Linked DNA regions of Homo sapiens: region 2 is linked to region 1. The links come from fine-mapping of genetic effects on gene expression. Tissue or cell type: whole blood. Region 1 holds a variant in brackets; the other region holds the start of a gene. All regions are shown on one strand. Distances are from middle to middle.

Region 1 (8,104 bases):
GCCCTGAAGCCAGAAGTGTGGCATATTCAAGCATCCCGGAGAAGTCCCAGAGCAACCCGCAAAGGTGGCAGAGGCTGCAGAGGACCCAGGAGGGCCTTTGAGTGCACCAGAGGAGACGCCGGGGATGGCAGGCAGATTTCGGGGGTCACCAGCACGGAGCTGGGAGCAGTCGTCTGAACAGAGCTGAGGGACAGAGGTCTTGGGGTGTCGGGAGTGAGCAGGGACTGGACACACGTGGACACTCTGCTGCCCGGGCGGCCGCGGGCCCCTCCCCTGCCTGTCAACTCTGAGGCCTGTGGTCGGCAGAAGAATCCATCTCTCACTAAGGTGCCCACGTCCTAATCCCCAGAACCTGTGACTCTGTCACCTCTCAGGGCCAAAGGGACTTTGCAGATGGACTCAGCTGGGGACTTGAGATGTGGGAGTGATGCTGGATTGCAGGGTGGGCCTGAAATGCAATCACAGGGGTCCTTAAAAGAAGGGGGTGAAAGTGAGAGTTGAGGGAGCCCTGACTGCAGGGGAAAGGCAGAGACGCGAGGCCGCTGGTGGTGAAGACGGAGGAGGCGTCGTGAGCCAAAGAAGGCGGGACTCCAGAGGCTGGAAATGGCGGGAAACAGATTCTCTCCAGGGTCTCCAGAAGGAACCCACTGTGTCCACACCTTCACTTGAGCCAGGGGACCCATACTGGACCTGTGTCCTACAGAACTGAGGGACCATAAATGTGTGTTGTTGAAGGCACAAACTTTGTGATCCTGGGTTACAGCCGTCCTTCTCCACCCCACCCCGCTGCCAACGCTGGTGCAGGCCTCCAGGTTCTCCACGGGACTCCTGGCTGACCACCCATCTCCTCCATACCAGGCCAGGCCAAGCCCTTCCACAGTCTGAATTCCCTCAATGGTGCCCTTGACCTTGCAAGGCCTTCCAGGCTGGCCCCTGCCTATCCCACCAGATGCATTTCTTGACACTCCCAAACTCACACCTCCGTGCCTTCTCACCCTTCCTGACCCTCACTGTGGTGCAATGTCGGGGGTGTAAGACCCCCAGGGTCCCAACAGAGGGACAGGTGAGACCCTGTGCTGCCTTCAGTGAGGGCTACCCCAGTCACCCCATCGCTCCCTGTCCTGTCCCGTCCAAAGCTCCTTCAGCAGGAGCTGGGATACGGGCCAGATGGGCCAGGGGAGATGACAGTCTCCATCTTAGCACTTTTTCTCTTCCATCCCCAGTAACTGCCAAGGACTGGGGAAATCCGCCGGGGCTGACTCAGAGAGCACAGTCTGGGGAAATCCCGCAGTGCAGAGCTCAGCTCAACCTGCGACCCGTGGGGCCAGGATGCTGCCTCATCTTGGTGGAAGGAAACTCCAGCCAGGAAGTGGGGACCATGGGGATGGGGAGGCACGGTTATAGGGGGAAAATTGAGGCAGACTTTTTCTGGTGAAATCAAGACTGAACTGGCGGACTGGTGAGACTTTGAAGCCAGCAACAAGTGTGGCCATAAATTTCAATACAGGACCACCGAGTTCCAGCAGCTGTCCCCTCCTCTCGCACTCTGCATGGACCTTTCCCCCAGGCTGGTCACTTCCATCAGCTGAAATCATGTTGTTAGAAGCCTAACTTCAACACAGCCTCTCAGCTCTGCATTCCCATGCTGACCCCAACTTAACCCTGCAGGGCTGGCTTCACTCTCCCCTCCCCTCCTGCTCTCTCTGGAACCTTCTCCTGGGCCTGCCTCTGAACCCACCCCTCCTGCTGCTGTGGGCGCGCTGGCCAGGCCCCCAGCAAAGCCACCCTCCTGCCTGGTCACCTGCTCTCATCTCCTCACCAGCAACATCCCCACTGTCCTGCACCAGCAAGTCCACTCCCTCTCTACTGGTCTTTTCTTGACAGTATCTTAAGGCAAATAAACAAATGGAGACCAGTCTGGGCAACAGAGTGGAAACAAAAAAAATTAGGCGTGGTGGTGCATGCCTACAGTCCCATCTACTTGGGAGGCTAAGGTGGGAGGATTGTTTGAGCCCAGGAGGTCAAGGCTGCAGTGAGCTGTGACGGTGCCACTGCACTCCAGCCTGGGTGACAGAGCAAGACCCTGTCTCTAATAATAAAGCAAACTCCTTTTCCTGTTCCCAGTGATCTCTGCAGCGCCTATCCTGCGCCTCCCCTCCCCTTCAAAGTGAAATTTCTGGAAACAGCTGTCTCTGACGTCTCACACCTCCCTCTGCCCGACACGCCGCACACTTTCCAAAACAGCTCTGCAGGTCTTCCAGTCCCCACTCAAGACCAGGCCTTTCAGGGAGACAATGATGGGCTCTCAGTCCTGGGGGAGTCATGACTCAGGGCTTCACGGGCTCTTCTCCACCCACCCTCGCCTCCCGCAGGCCTTTATGAAACCCACTTCTCAGTAGGGCCCTCCCTGGGCAAGCTGCTTACAAACTCCCAGCTCTCCCTTCCCCTCCTTGAGCTCTCTCGGCGGACGTTTCCTACAATACACATGTTATCTGCTGGGCTATCACTGTCTCCTCCCACTTGCAGAGAACAGGAATTGTTTCTGACTCATTCACACCACCGGGAAGAAAGCCTGAGGGAGGACAGGTGTCCAACAGGCCCCTGATGAGCAGACAGGGATGCGACTGAACTAGAATCAGAAGCAATTCAACAACAGAATTACAGGGAAATTTAAAAAAATCAACACTACACATTTGAGATTCTTGCCAGAACACAGAGGAAGAGAAGGACTGGCTGTGACCCGTGAGAAGAAGGCGGCAGAGGGAGATGCAGCATGGGAAACAGAGAGAAGGGCTTCAGTACTACATCATGAGGGGAGTGTCTGCAGCCACAGGGCCTTCTGTCCCGCAGTGAGAAAGGGGCAGCTGAGGGATTACGTTTACGTTTGCTTATTTTCTTTTCTTTTCTTTTTTTTTTTTTTTTTTTTGAGACGGAGTCTTGCTCTGTCGCCCAGGCTGGAGTGCAGTGGCGCGAACTCGGCTCACTGCCAGCTCCGCCTCCTGGGTTCATGCCATTCTCCTGCCTCAGCCTCCCAAGTAGCTGGGACTACAGGCACCTGCCACCACGCCCGGCTAATTTTTTGTATTTTTAGTAGAGACAGGGTTTCACCGTGTTAGCCAGGATGGTCTCGATCTCCTGACCTTGTGATCTGCCTGCCTCAGCCTCCCAAAGTGCTGGGATTACAGACGTGAGCCACTGTGCCCAGCCCGTTTGTTTATTTTCTAAATGGCATCTAGAGACCTTCCAGCTCCCAGAACCCAATCCCACCCTGGAAAAAAATACTTGTTTCTTTGTTAACATTTTAAATACTAGAAAATGATGGACAAGAGTTGTGAGGGGGAACTCTTACAACACAATTTTATAACAGATCAAATTCTTCCTCATCTACAAAAGCAATGCAGAGCCAAAGCAAACATCAATCTCCTCAACTACACCAGAGCTGAGAATATACACCAGCCGTCACACCCCTCCTGAAAAATCAGTCCCTTACAAAGGCACCAGAGGCACCAGAAAAGCAATGGTCAAAATATGCATGAGGAGGATGAGAATTTTTACACAGTATCAGGTGTTAATTTCAAATTTCTGTAATTAGAAAAATAAAATAGGACTTAAAAATAAAAAATCAGTTTTAAAAGAGAACACATCTGCAGACAGGCAAGGATGCAGAGTGATTAAGACACTCACACTCTTTGGGAGGCCAAGGTGGGCGGATCACGAGGTCAGGAGATGGAGACCATCCTGGCTAACACGGTGAAACACCGTCTCTACTAAAAATACAAAAAAATTAGCCAGGCGTGGTGATGGGCGCCTGTAGTCCCAGCTACTCGGGAGGCTGAGGCAGGAGAATGGCGTGAACCCGGGAGGCGGAACTTGCAGTGAGCCGAGATCGCGCCACTGCACTCCAGCCTGGGTGACAAAGCGAGACTCCATCTCAAAAAAAAAAAAAAAAAAAAAAAAAAAGACACTCACGCCATAGAAAAAAGGGAGGGATAGATGGATGGAAGGGAGGAAATGTGGACAGATGGGTCGATGGATGGACAAAGGGAGAGATGGGTGGATGGATGGGTTGGGTGGACAGATGAAATGGTGAATGAATACATGGATAGATGAGTGGATAGATGGACAGATGGGTGGATGGACAGACACATTGGTGGATAAATGGATAGATGGGTGGGTGGATGAATGCATGGATGGACAGGTGGGTGGAGGGATGTGTGGGTAGATGAATGGATGGATGAATGCATAGACAGATGGGTGAATGA[A/C]TGGATGGATGAGTGGGTGAGTGGGTGGGTGGATGGACAGACAGATGGGTGGATGGGTGGATGGATGGATGAATGGATGGACAGACAGATGGGTGGATGAACGGACAGGTGAGTGGATATATGGATGGGTGGATACATAGATGGATAGATGAATGGACAGATGGATGGATGGGTGGATAGATGGATGGCCCAACTGATGGATGGATAGATGGATGCATAGACAAACAAATGAATAAATCACAAATAGTTTTTGAAATCCCTCAGCTCCTAAGGAGCAACTAAGAACAGCACAGACGAGCTGAGAGGGATAGAGGCTCACCTAAGGGAAGTGGGGAAACCAAGGCTGGAAAAGAATTTCTAGCAGCCTCCACTGCTGGACTTGAGGGGCAGCTTGAATTTTATCCAGAAAACAACAGGGAGGCTCTGAGTTTTGTTGAACAAGGAAGCAATATGAGAAGGGGAGTATTTTCAGTCCACATAAAAAATGAACTCTGGTTTGGAGGTAAAAACTAGCTGCAAAGGAATGACTTAAGACACAGTGGAACAGCCTAGAAGAAAGAGGGGAGCCTGACCATGGCAGAGGGCGGTGGGAAGATGAATTTGAGGCGCAGTAGAGATGAAGAACCACAAGGCTGATGAAAGTGGTGAGCGCCCAGAGCCACCTGCAGGAACGTGATGCTGATCCGCTCTGCCACTCGGGTTGGGTGAAATTCTAGAGGAATGATGTCATTCCAGGCACCAAACCCGCCATGAAAGGCACAGGATGATAGAATCTCACAGCGTATCACCTTCAGAGACCTGAGAGGTTCAGGGGCCCACCACCACGTGCCACTGGGCCACACTCACCTCTCATCCACGTTGGCGGATCCCAGCACGAGGAGCCCACCGTGGACACCCCGAGACCAGAGGCTCAACTGAGCAAACAGATAGGCGAGGACCATCCGTATTCGAGCCTGGAAAACACAACAGAGGAAATAACGGGTTCCCTTGCAAAGGAACACGGGGGAGACGCACACCCACAAACTCTTGAAAACAAGAAAATTAAAATAGCTTAGGAGCTCTCTAGCGTTCGGGGAACATCAGAGTCTCAGAGTCCCACAGTGTCCCGAGGCCTTCCTCTCGGGGTGGTCCCACCTCCACAGGGCTCACACAAGCTCAGTGGTGCCTTGCCTTCAAAGATGGGAGCACCCAGAGCCCGGGAGGGCAGAGGGAGCACTGGTGGCAGGACTGAGCCGTGGGGTCCCTGGGAGAAAGCTTGGCAACTGCATTTCCATCCCTTTACCACTGGCAGGAGGGGAGAGGCCACCCAGGCACAGCAGAAAGGGGACAGAGAGAGACAGGACAGATCCCAGCAGCTGGAGCCCCCGGCCTCTCTTTTCCTCTGCCCATCACGGAGCAGTCAGTCAAGTGCAGTAGCTCAGGAGGCAGACAGCGTCTGGGCTGTTCCCTGAGGATTAAAGAGACACACACTCACACACAGTCATGTGCACTCTCACACTCATGCACACCCACCCACCCACATGCTCACAGGCATGCTCGTGCACTCATGCAGACGCACTCATGCACACAACTGTGCACTCACGTTTGTGCACACTCACACATCCACACTCACACTTGCTTTTGCACAAGCACTCACAAGCACACCCACACTTGTGCATACATTCACACACTTGTACTCTCATACACTCATGTAACCTCTCACGCTCAGGCTCACACTCAGGCTCAGACACACCCTCTTGCTCTTGCACTCAGGCTCATGCACACACTCGAGCACGCACATCCTTACACCCCCGCTCTTGCTCTTACACATCACATGCTCATGCACCAACACACACACAGACCCCCTCCTTGTTAACAAGGCTGCATGACCGACGTCTTCAGTGAGGCATACAGGCTGTGACCCCAGCACTGGCTGTCCCTAGGTAACCGGTGCCATGAGCTTCATGGAGACGATGGCCCAGGTGGGGGCACCTGCACATCCTGTAGTGATTGTCCCAGTGCTCCCTGCACCCCCACCCCCAGGGGACGCCGGCCCAGGCGGGGGCACCTGCACATTTTGCAGCGCCAGGTTTTCCCTGCTGCTTCCTCCATGAGCTGCAAACAGAGGGCTCTTCCCCGTCACCAGGCTGAAGATGCCCATGACGGCCTTCACGGCTGGATCGATGTTGAGACTGATGTGGTGGCTGGAAGGAGAAGGATAGGCGTTGAAGGCAGCATGTGCACGTGTGTGCATGTGTGTGCGCATGAGCGGTGAAGCCCTGATGACCTAAAACTGACCATTGTAACCCATTTAAAGCGTATGATTTGTGGTGTTTAGCAATCCACAGTGCTGCGCAGCCATCACCACCATCTAGCTCAGAACTTCCCATCACCAGAGAAGGGAACCCCATCCCACTGGCAGTCTGTCCCCACTCCCTCCTCCTCCAGCTCTGACAGCTCTGACAGTGACAGATGCAGAGAGTGACAGACACCCTCTCTCTCTATGCCATGGCCTGTTCTGGACATTGCGTGGAAATGGAATGGAAATGGAATCAAACACCATGTGGCCTGGTGTGGCTGGCTCCACTCCCTTCATCCGCACCATGTCTTCAAGGTTTCTCCTCACTGTGTCATGTGATCATGCTCCACTCCTCTTCGTGGGTGACTAATATTCCACCGTGTGAATGGACCACAGTTTCTTCCTCCGTTCATCTGAGATGGACCTTGGGTTGTCCCTGCCTCTTGGCTTCTGTGAATGGTGCTGCTATGGACTTTCCTGAACAAGTATCTGTTCGGGTCCCTGTTTCTGATTCCTCTGAGTACATATCTAGGAGGAGAATCACTGGAGGGCATGGGGACAGCTTTTAGCTGAGCTCAACAAACAGGATGGGGAGCTGCTCATTTTCTCCTAGGAGCCATTATGGATGGAATATTCTAGATAGAACCCAGTCTTTCTTCTCCGGAAAGGTGCCCTCCTTCCACTGTCCTCACATAGAGAACTGCCCGTGGAAGAGGCAGTGAGGGCAGGGGAAGAGAAAGGAGGAGGGGTAGGAGCCAGCCTGCAGCCAACTCCCAGGACCTGCTGCACACCCTGGTGAGCACATACGACCTGCAGCCTGCACTGGGAATGCCAGGAGTGAGGGGACAGAAGGGCAGAAATTGCAGGCACCATCTGAGACTGGGGTGGGTCAGATAGGGAGGACTCACACACAGCTTCCCTGAAATCTGGCTCAAACCAAGAGAAAGTGGAGCCCTGATAAGCTCCTAGGTGCACATTTAAGCAATTGCTGATGACAGGAGAAACAAACTGGTCTATCCGTACAGTGGAATATTATTCACCCACAAAAAGGGATGGAGCACTTACACGTTTATCCACATAGTGGATGACACGATGCGGAATGAATGAAGCCAGTCACCAATGCACTCACAGGCGGAGCTTCCAGTGACTCTGAGCTCTGTCAGCCACCTGCCATGCCCAATACCAGGGACCAACTCTACCTTCCAATCTGCTGGGCCAACTCTCTGGCCCGGGTGCACGTCTCCTGGGAGGAGTTCTTGCTGGCCATGTAGCAGGTGGTCAGTATGCGTCCACAGAGGTCTCGGGGATCCTGGGGGGTGTAGCTGATCTGGTTCACGATGGTGCGGACATCAGCCAGCACTTCCTCATCTGAAAACCACCAGGACAGAATGGGTGGAAGTCACCTGAGTGTGTGGGATGTTTACATAGTTCCACCCCGGTCTACACCCCCAGGTGCCCATGCGGCTCCACCCCGGTCTACACCCCCAGGTGCCTGTGCGGCTCCACCCCGGTCTACACCCCCAGGTGCCTGTGCGGCTCCACCCCAGTCTACACCCCCAGGTGC
Region 2 (8,104 bases), 34 kb after region 1:
TCACCCCTTCGGTGAGTCAGCAGCAGGAGCTGGTCCTGGGGCCATTTGGGTGGTAGCCTTCCCTTTCCAAAGCTTCCAGCACCAGCTCAAAGGAAACTGCTGACTTTTCTAGGTGAGAGGGTCTCTGGTCCATGAGTCAGCCTGCTCTAGGGCCACTGGGCCCTCCCTGTGTATCAGGTGCTGGACCTCTAACCAGTAAGAACAAGAGGCGGTGTGCTCAGTGAAGTGATGTCCCTCCTCTCCTGCCTCGGTTTCCTCTCTGTAAGTTGTTGGAATATTTCACAGGAGCCTGCTCAGCAGGTTGTAAGCTACTTGGAGACCTGCTCAGCTGGGCCCCTGTCCCTGCTGGATGCAAATATTCCATCCCGGGGGCCTTTAGTTAGACATCCTCCCACTTTTAAAATGAAACAGGTCCATATTTGGAGGAAAGAGAGAGGTGGATGTAACATTTATAGGAGAGAGAGACTAGGACGAAGAAAGAAAAGAAGACGTAAACTCTAAGCATCTGGGCAACATCAGGCCAGGGGGACTGGGCTGTCACCACTGCAGCTCCTCCAGGGCAAGCAGCAGACAGGACATGAGGATCAGGCCCCCGGACCAGCCCAGGAGAGGTCAGGCTCACGAGACGATCAGGCCTTGAGTCCAGCCCAGGAGAAGATCCGGCCACGGGGCCAGGAGAGGATCGAAGCTTTGTGATATCAGACAGCCCAGAACCCTAGATCCCTTGGCACTTAGGTGAAGAATTTCTTAAAGAATCAATCAAATGAAGACAAATTAAAGAACAAAGTAAACATTCTTGGATATTATGGGAGAAACAGCCCTATTTGAAGGTGGTATTCTAAGGAGAGAAATCAATCTAATGAAGGAAAGAAACTTGGAAGGACTTAGAGAAAGATGCCTCTGGACTCACACAAAACCTCCTAAGAGAAGACAGTTCCTGCTTACTCTAAGTCCAGAAGCAAGAACACACACTAAGGCAGGGGACAAAGACTGAAGAGGAACTTCCAGATCCCACAACGGGTCAGAGGCCTAAAGACCAACGGGAAACTAGCAGAGCACAGATGGCAGCTGACATCCAAAATGAGAAAGGACTATCGCTTACAAGAGACTTACAACGTGGCTACTCATTGTTTTGTTTTCATTTTTGTTTTTGTTTTTGAAGGGACAAGAAGGGAAATAAGCAATCAGTTTTCCTGATTTTTACAAAAAGGCATATAAGAAACGATAACCTATGCTTGCTTGTGGAAAGATTCTGAGATCACGGAATGAAAACCTGGGAATATGTCTTGGTCCTTCAGCCTGCTATAACAAAACACCTTGGACTGGGTAATTAATAAACAGCAGAAATGTATTGCTCACAGTTCTGGAGGCTGGGAAGCCCACGATCAAGGTGCTGGCAGATTTGGTATCTGGTAAGGACTGGTTGTCTCCTTCTCTGTGTCCTCACATGGTAGAAGGGGCCAACAAGCTCCTTTGGGCCTCTCTTGTAAGAGCACTAATCCCATTCATGCAGGCTCCACTCTCATGCCCTCATGACCCAATCACCTGCCAAAGGCCTCATCTCTTAATTCCATCATCTGGGGGTTAGGTTTCAACATATGAATTTTGTGGGGACGCAAACATTCAGACCACAGCAAAAGGGCAGTGGTAACACAGAAGCAGCCCAACTTTGAAACTGGCCTTCATCTGGTAAAAGTCAGTTCTTTTAATTACTCAACATGGGAATCTAGACTTATTCAGCCTCCCTGGGCCTGCCCTTGCTCAGGTGTTCAATGGCATTAACCAGGCCCAACAGTGGGTGTGGCGTGTCCACAGCTCTCAGGACTGTCCCTGCTCCTTCCTTGCCTTCTCAGCTGGGGAAAACTGATGCTGGTATCGCTAGCTGACGACCCCAGGGTGTCTGTGTCTGTTCTCACCATATTTCCAGCTCTGGTCCAAGCCTGTATCTTGCTCCTCTGTTTTTGGCAATTTCAATACCTGTAAGTACAGAGAGAAAAAGAAAATGGAGCAATTTCAGCACCTATACACTCAAAGACAGATGAAACAACCTGCTGCAGTAGGTAGGATAAAAAAAAAAACAAACAACAAACAAAAATGCTCTGTGCCTTCCCAGACGGGATGCAGTCAGGCTTCCTGTTGACAGCATGGCAGCAGAGGGCAGCATACACCTGTATACACCTGTATACACGAGTACGCCTGCACCTGCTTATACTTGCATATACCTGCTTATATCTGCAGGAAATGAGAAACAGGGAGGGCTTGCAGGTCTGACCCTTAGCACCATGGAGGAGGCGGAGGAAGAGGAAGAAGTCAGACCCTGGTAGTTTATTAACAAGGAAATGCCCAACACCATCTAGAGGAAAAAGGACTTAGAGGATTACGATCCAGCAGTGGTGCCACTGTCAGGCACCATCGGCTTACTGGTCTTGGGCAGCAGCTTCCAACAAGCACCTAGGGAGGAGAGGCTGGCAGAGTGGAAACTTAGTTTTGGCCAAGCCTTCTTCAGTTCAACTAGATTTGCTCTGAGCAAATGAGGTGAAAGCAGGTTGATATTTAAAAAATAAAAATAAAAAACCACTGGCTGCGGTGGCTCATGCCTGGAATCCCAGCACTTTGGGAGGCCAAGGCAGGTGGATCACTTGAGGTCAGGAGTTCGAGGCCAGCATGGCCACCATGGTGAAACCTTGTCTCTACTAAAAATACAGAAATTGGCCATGCATGGTGGCAGACGCCTGTAATCCCAGCTACTCAGGAGGCTGAGGCAGGAGAATCGCTTGAGCCCAGGAGGCAGAGACTGCAGTGAGCCAAGATGACACCACTGCACTCCAGCCAGGGCAACAGAGTGACAGTCCATGTCAAATAATAATAATCATAATAATAATCCAGGGCACATACTGATTAGATGCCATCTCTTGAAACATTCTGTTTCTATTGTTCCTGGCAAAGGCTCTTGCAGTCAGCAGACCAGTGCAAGACAAGCTGCAACCTGACTACACCTGCAGGCTTGCCCATTTAGGTGCAGGTGTAATAGTTTAACTTTTCATCCTCCACGGTGCGTCCATATGAACGAAAATTAGATGGTGACCTTTCAACAACCACACCCTATCTTCGAGGCCACCACGCCCGGCTGATTTTTGTATTTTTAGTAGAGACGGTGTTTCACCATGATGGCCAGGCTGGTCTTGAACTCCTGACCTCAGGTGACTTCCACCCCCTCCGGCCCCCCCAAAATGCTGGGATGACAGGCGTCTTTTTCTACTTCCCTTTCTGGGACGCCTTCTCCCACCAGGAAGGCCCACGGGGACCAGAGACCATCAATCTCTGGCCTCTGCACACCATCCCCGCCAGTGCGCAGCCATTCTGTTCAACTTAGATATCTCCGAGAATGGGCAGCTCAGTCCCAACCACGGGACCCCAGAGATATCAGAACACGGGTCCATCCCCAGGCCTCCCGCCTAAGCCGCCAGACTTTTCTTAACCGTGCCTTGTATATCGCTCGTCCCCGGGAACTATAAACACTCACTTCCCGACGAGGACCTGAGCACGTACCACTGGCGGGGTCATTGCCCATTATCTCACCTGATCCCATGCCCAGGGCCGAGAGTTTCCCAGGGCAAGGCTGTGAGCACGCCACGGGCAAGCCTGGGCCCAGCCACGGTGCCCGTGCGCCACCCCAAACCGGTGCCCCCGCCGCCCCAGACTCACTCTTTAAAATTCTTTGCAAATTGCCCTCGAAGTCCAGGGCCCACTGGTTGAGTGCGCAGGTGGCCACGGTCACCTTCCGGCCCATCCTGGCCGCAGTCGCTTGGGCAGGAGGCCAGCGGGGGACAGCAAGACCAGGGTCCCAGCGAGGTAGGCGGCTGGGACGCCGGACCTTCCGGGTTGCCCGGCCCCGCCCCCTCCCCGCCCATCCGTTGAGGCTCCGGCCAAGGAGGACTGCGGCGTCAGGCCCTGCCTACGGATCGCCCCGCCCCGTCTGAGGAGCTCACGACCGCGCCTGCGCAGCGAGGTGGCCTCAGCGTTCACGGCACCGCGAAGGGCCCCGCCCCCGCCCCGGCTCCACCCACGTCCCAGGCCCCGGCCCCGGCCCGGCCCTTGCGGGCAAACCCGTTCAGGTGCACAGGTGCAGGGGGCTCACCGCCCAGCTGCAGCACCCCTCTATTTTATCCCACACCGCCACCCCACATCCAGCTTAGCCATGTTTTATTTTAATACGGCATGAAACGTTCCAAATACACCAAAAGTGGAGAGTACGGTAGGAGCGCTCCATCGTGCCCGCGGGACAGCAGACGATAGCAATCGATTCTCCGTGCTGGGAATCCCGCCACCCTGGGCGGATGGCGCTGAATTCTTGGGAACCCTCTCCTGCCCCTTTCACTCCTGTACCACGTGTGTAAGTAGCTCAGGTAGCGCACTGTTTGCCTTTTCTGAAACTACAGGAACTGCACTTGAATGTGCTTCTGCAACTTGATTTTTTCCCCTGTAATATGAGATACGTTCTTTTAATTATTTTTCTGCAGTTTGGTATTCCATAGTGGCAGTAAAGCAGGTTTATTCAATAGCGGATGGGCATTGACGTTATTAGCAGCGTTTTGCCAACAGACGCACGCACACAGGCACTGCTGCAATTTCCTTTCCGGCAAGGTTTCCTTCGTGACCTCGTTCCGCCAGTTCCTGCAGCAGCTTTGCAGAGTAGTAGGGTTCGTGCTGTTTGACTTTACTAAATATTGCCAAGTCTCTTCTCCAGGGCGCTTGCACCGATTCACTACCAGCGGTTTCTCACTTTTTATTTTTTCACATTTCCTCTTTAGTCCACCCACGGTAGAATCCATTTTTCCCCCATATAAATAACTGCCTCATCATCGTTGCTTGAAGAGGCCATCCTTCCTTCTGTCATTCATGTTAGTTTAAAAACACACAATTCACAAATTTGGAAAAAGAGAAGGCTTTATTTCTTGTAAACGGTCGTAGCCTGCAAGGTGGCGGCCATCTGTCTGAGGCTGGGAATCTGTCTCCAGCCAAGGCCAGAGACAGGCACGTCCAAGGAGGAGGGGTTGGGGCAGGAGCGCTATGCTGAAGGGATTGGCTAAACATACATATTCAACAGGTAACAGGAGGAGCTATGAATATTCATGAAGGTGGTCCTGACACATGCCCTCTTATTGAGCAAAGCATGTAATATATGACCCATGTTCACTTTGGGGTGGAGACTTAACATTTACACATCTTACAATTAGGGCCTTTATGGCAAAACGTCTTTTCAGGACACAAAGGCATGCAGGTGCATCATCTCTCTCTATTAACGGGTCAGCTGGTCGGCATGGTCAGCTGGTCGGTGGTCTCTTATTAGGAGAAAGTCACTGAAATCAGTCTCTTGTCCAATCACAGCTGCTATGGCTGGTGAAACAGAGTCAGTTAGTTGGCACCTAGTGGAGCTGCAATTGTTTTAATATTCCCTATCCCAAGGCTAGTGTGTGTTTGGCTAATAGAGAAACAGAAAGCCTTGTGGCTCTTAGAATATAGTTTATTCTCTAAGTGTGGGTTGCCTGACTTACCCTCGCCTAGCATGGCTTTGGGTCCTGTTTATAATTTGGTATCTTATTGCCACAGAGTCCGTTCTGTCAGTCTTACGATCTCTGTTTTAACATGAATGCCGGCCAGTTGTGGTGTCCAAACTCTGAAACAGGGGGCTATTACCAGGCGCATCTGACCTCCCATCCCATCATGTCTGGGAATTCAGTGTTGAGGTTTTTCTGGTGTCCCCTTGGTCAGGAGAAGGTCCCTTTGGTCAATGGGGGGCTTAGGATTTTATTTTTACCTTATGTACATATACCCGTTTTCACATTTTGAATCACTTTTTTTCCTGTCTATAAAGTAGTGCTTGTTCATGACAATTTGGAAACTCCACAAAAGCACCAGAATGTTATACATGCTAACTTATTTAATCCTCACAGTAGTTTTCATGCTTCTGAAATCCACACGATCTGCTCAAATTATCTCCTGCCAACAATGGCTGATGCCAGGCCTGGGCAGAGAAGGGGAGGATCCTTGAACATCTGGTTGTCCCAGAAAATAAGTAAGTACTCAAAGGATGGTAGATACATGTCATATGAAAAAAGAAGCCAATTTGAAGGGGCTCCCGTTAGCTAAATACAGGACAATACAGTAAGGATCATAACTCGGTCAGCTAAATCCATTAGGGCATACTGATAAAAAATAAATCAAAGAGGAAATCCCTACAGAAGAATGCTTGCTAATAAATAATTTATTAATAAATGTTGAGGGAATGATAAAATTAGAAAATTAACACTTTGTCCCAAGAAATAAGGGATTCAGGCAAGATTCCTCATTAAATGCTAGTTCACTGGGTGAAAGGTCATTTGGGAACAGCATATTTACAGTCTCAAAGTATCACTGCACCAATTACTCATTAATAACAAAAGGAAAAATGGAGACTTCTGGCAGAAACCACGGAGCCCCACTATCAATCATGGAGCACAGTGATATGTTGTCTTAAAAAAGAAAATTTTAGGACTCTTGAAATTTATTAGGTCAACTTGGGCAACAGAGCAAGATCCTGTCTTTAAATAAATAAATAAAAATAAATAAATTTATTATGTCAAGAGGGAAGTTAAGTCCTAGAAACTGGGTCACATAGCATGTTTGTAATTTTGTCTTTTAGATTATAGGCTGTTTTTCTTTATCATTCATGTTTTATAAATGACTAGGAGAGACCACAGACCAGGCCTGCTCCCCTTTTAATTACTGATCTTTATTATAGATTGTCTCTTATTATCCCGTACTTAGACCAGACTCCTACATCTTCAGTGTAAAATGTTAAATATACCTTCCACCTAAAAAAGACCACCTCAGCTGGTCAGATTATAACTTTATGCATAAAAAGATGTTAAAATTCTGTTAAACTTCCCTAAAATTTGTCTACATAAATGATCCCAAACATCTACAGTTCAAAATACTGATTTCCATTCTTTAAAATCTGTGCTTCCCAGGCAGCCTGTCCTCAAACTTTATACACTTAAATAAACTCTCTTTAAGCTAAATTCTGACCTGTTTGGTTATTTCAGGTTGACAGCCTTCTAACAAGATAAAACATGCTCTATGTAGTATATTATCCTGCCAAAAAAAGTGCATAGCCTGAATGCACAGTGTGGCTCCCTGATTAGATCCTGGGGTTTAAAAAAGGGCTGTAGGGCAGAGCTTCACACCTGTAGTCCCAGCACTGTAGGAGGCCACAGTGGGTGGATCGCTTGAGCCCAGGAGTTCGAGACCAGCTTGGGGAACATAGTGAGACCCCCCCCCCCACCCATCTCTACCAAAAAAAAAATAGCGTGTGGTGGTGTGCTCTTGTAGTCCCAGCTACTCAGGAGGGTGAGGGAAGAGAATCGCTTGAGCCCAGCAGTTCAAGGCTGCAGTGAGCTGTGATCGTGCCACTACACTCCAGCCTGTGTGACAGAGACCCCCGTCTTAACAAAGCAAAACAAAACAACAATAACAAAAGGGCTGTAAAGGGCATTATTGGGACAACCGCGGGAAACTGGAGATGGAAAATAGATAACAGCATTGAACTGATGTGGTCATTGTATTTTGGTAATATAGGAGGTTCTTGTTCTTAAGGAGTTGGATACCGAAGTATTTGGGAGGGGGGTATCACGGTATCTGCAGCTAATGGTGGGGGCTGAGTGGGGAGGAAAAAAGAAAAATACACATATATAAACACAGAGGGAGAGAAATGAAACGTGGCCAGCTGCTCACCCCTGCTGAACCTAGGAATCTGCGTGCTCACTTTACGTTCAACTTGTTTGTATGCTGAACATTTTTCAAAACAAAAAGGTGCAGGGAAAAAAGAAAACATGATGTCTCTCTGAGGGCCACAGAGACGTGGCAACCAGATCGCTCTGACAGTAAGGCCTGTTACCCGAGCTGTTGGGTGTGGGGTCAGCAGACACCTTCAGCTGCCCCCTCCTCCAGGGCTGCCTCGCCCCAGGTCATGCCCTCGCAACGTGGCCCGTGCGTCCGGCTCGCACTGTGGCTCAGCTTCTCCCTTTGCCCAGTCCTGCTGCTCCCTCCCCTCCCGTCCTCGCAC

The links. PIP is the estimated chance that this variant, and not a neighbour inherited with it, causes the effect.
Region 2: NADSYN1 starts here. The variant in region 1 is fine-mapped to the expression of NADSYN1 in whole blood (TOPMed, PIP above 0.99). The same link has a PIP of 0.9 or more in aorta, blood mononuclear cells, tibial artery and visceral fat.

Annotation. Positions count from the first base shown.
Region 1 is chr11:71,482,653-71,490,756 of GRCh38, reverse strand. NADSYN1 (NAD synthetase 1) reads right to left here. Exons shown (of 21, transcript NM_018161.5): 14 at 7,740-7,908; 15 at 6,310-6,445; 16 at 5,109-5,215. Among named protein-coding and RNA genes, the nearest start is that of MIR6754, 13 kb to the right of the region's middle. RefSeq lists enhancers at 2,045-2,815, 5,103-5,603. The variant A/C (reference allele first, on the strand shown) is at 4,263.
Region 2 is chr11:71,448,983-71,457,086 of GRCh38, reverse strand. It overlaps NADSYN1 (NAD synthetase 1), which reads right to left and starts at 3,884. Exons shown (of 21, transcript NM_018161.5): 1 at 3,706-3,884; 2 at 1,917-1,977. The coding sequence starts at 3,790. DHCR7-DT (DHCR7 divergent transcript) reads right to left here. Exons shown (of 2, transcript NR_186309.1): 2 at 4,930-5,397. It also overlaps a transcript of DHCR7 not described here. RefSeq lists enhancers at 2,727-3,226, 3,227-3,728, 4,966-5,045, 5,166-5,215 and a silencer at 3,786-4,155.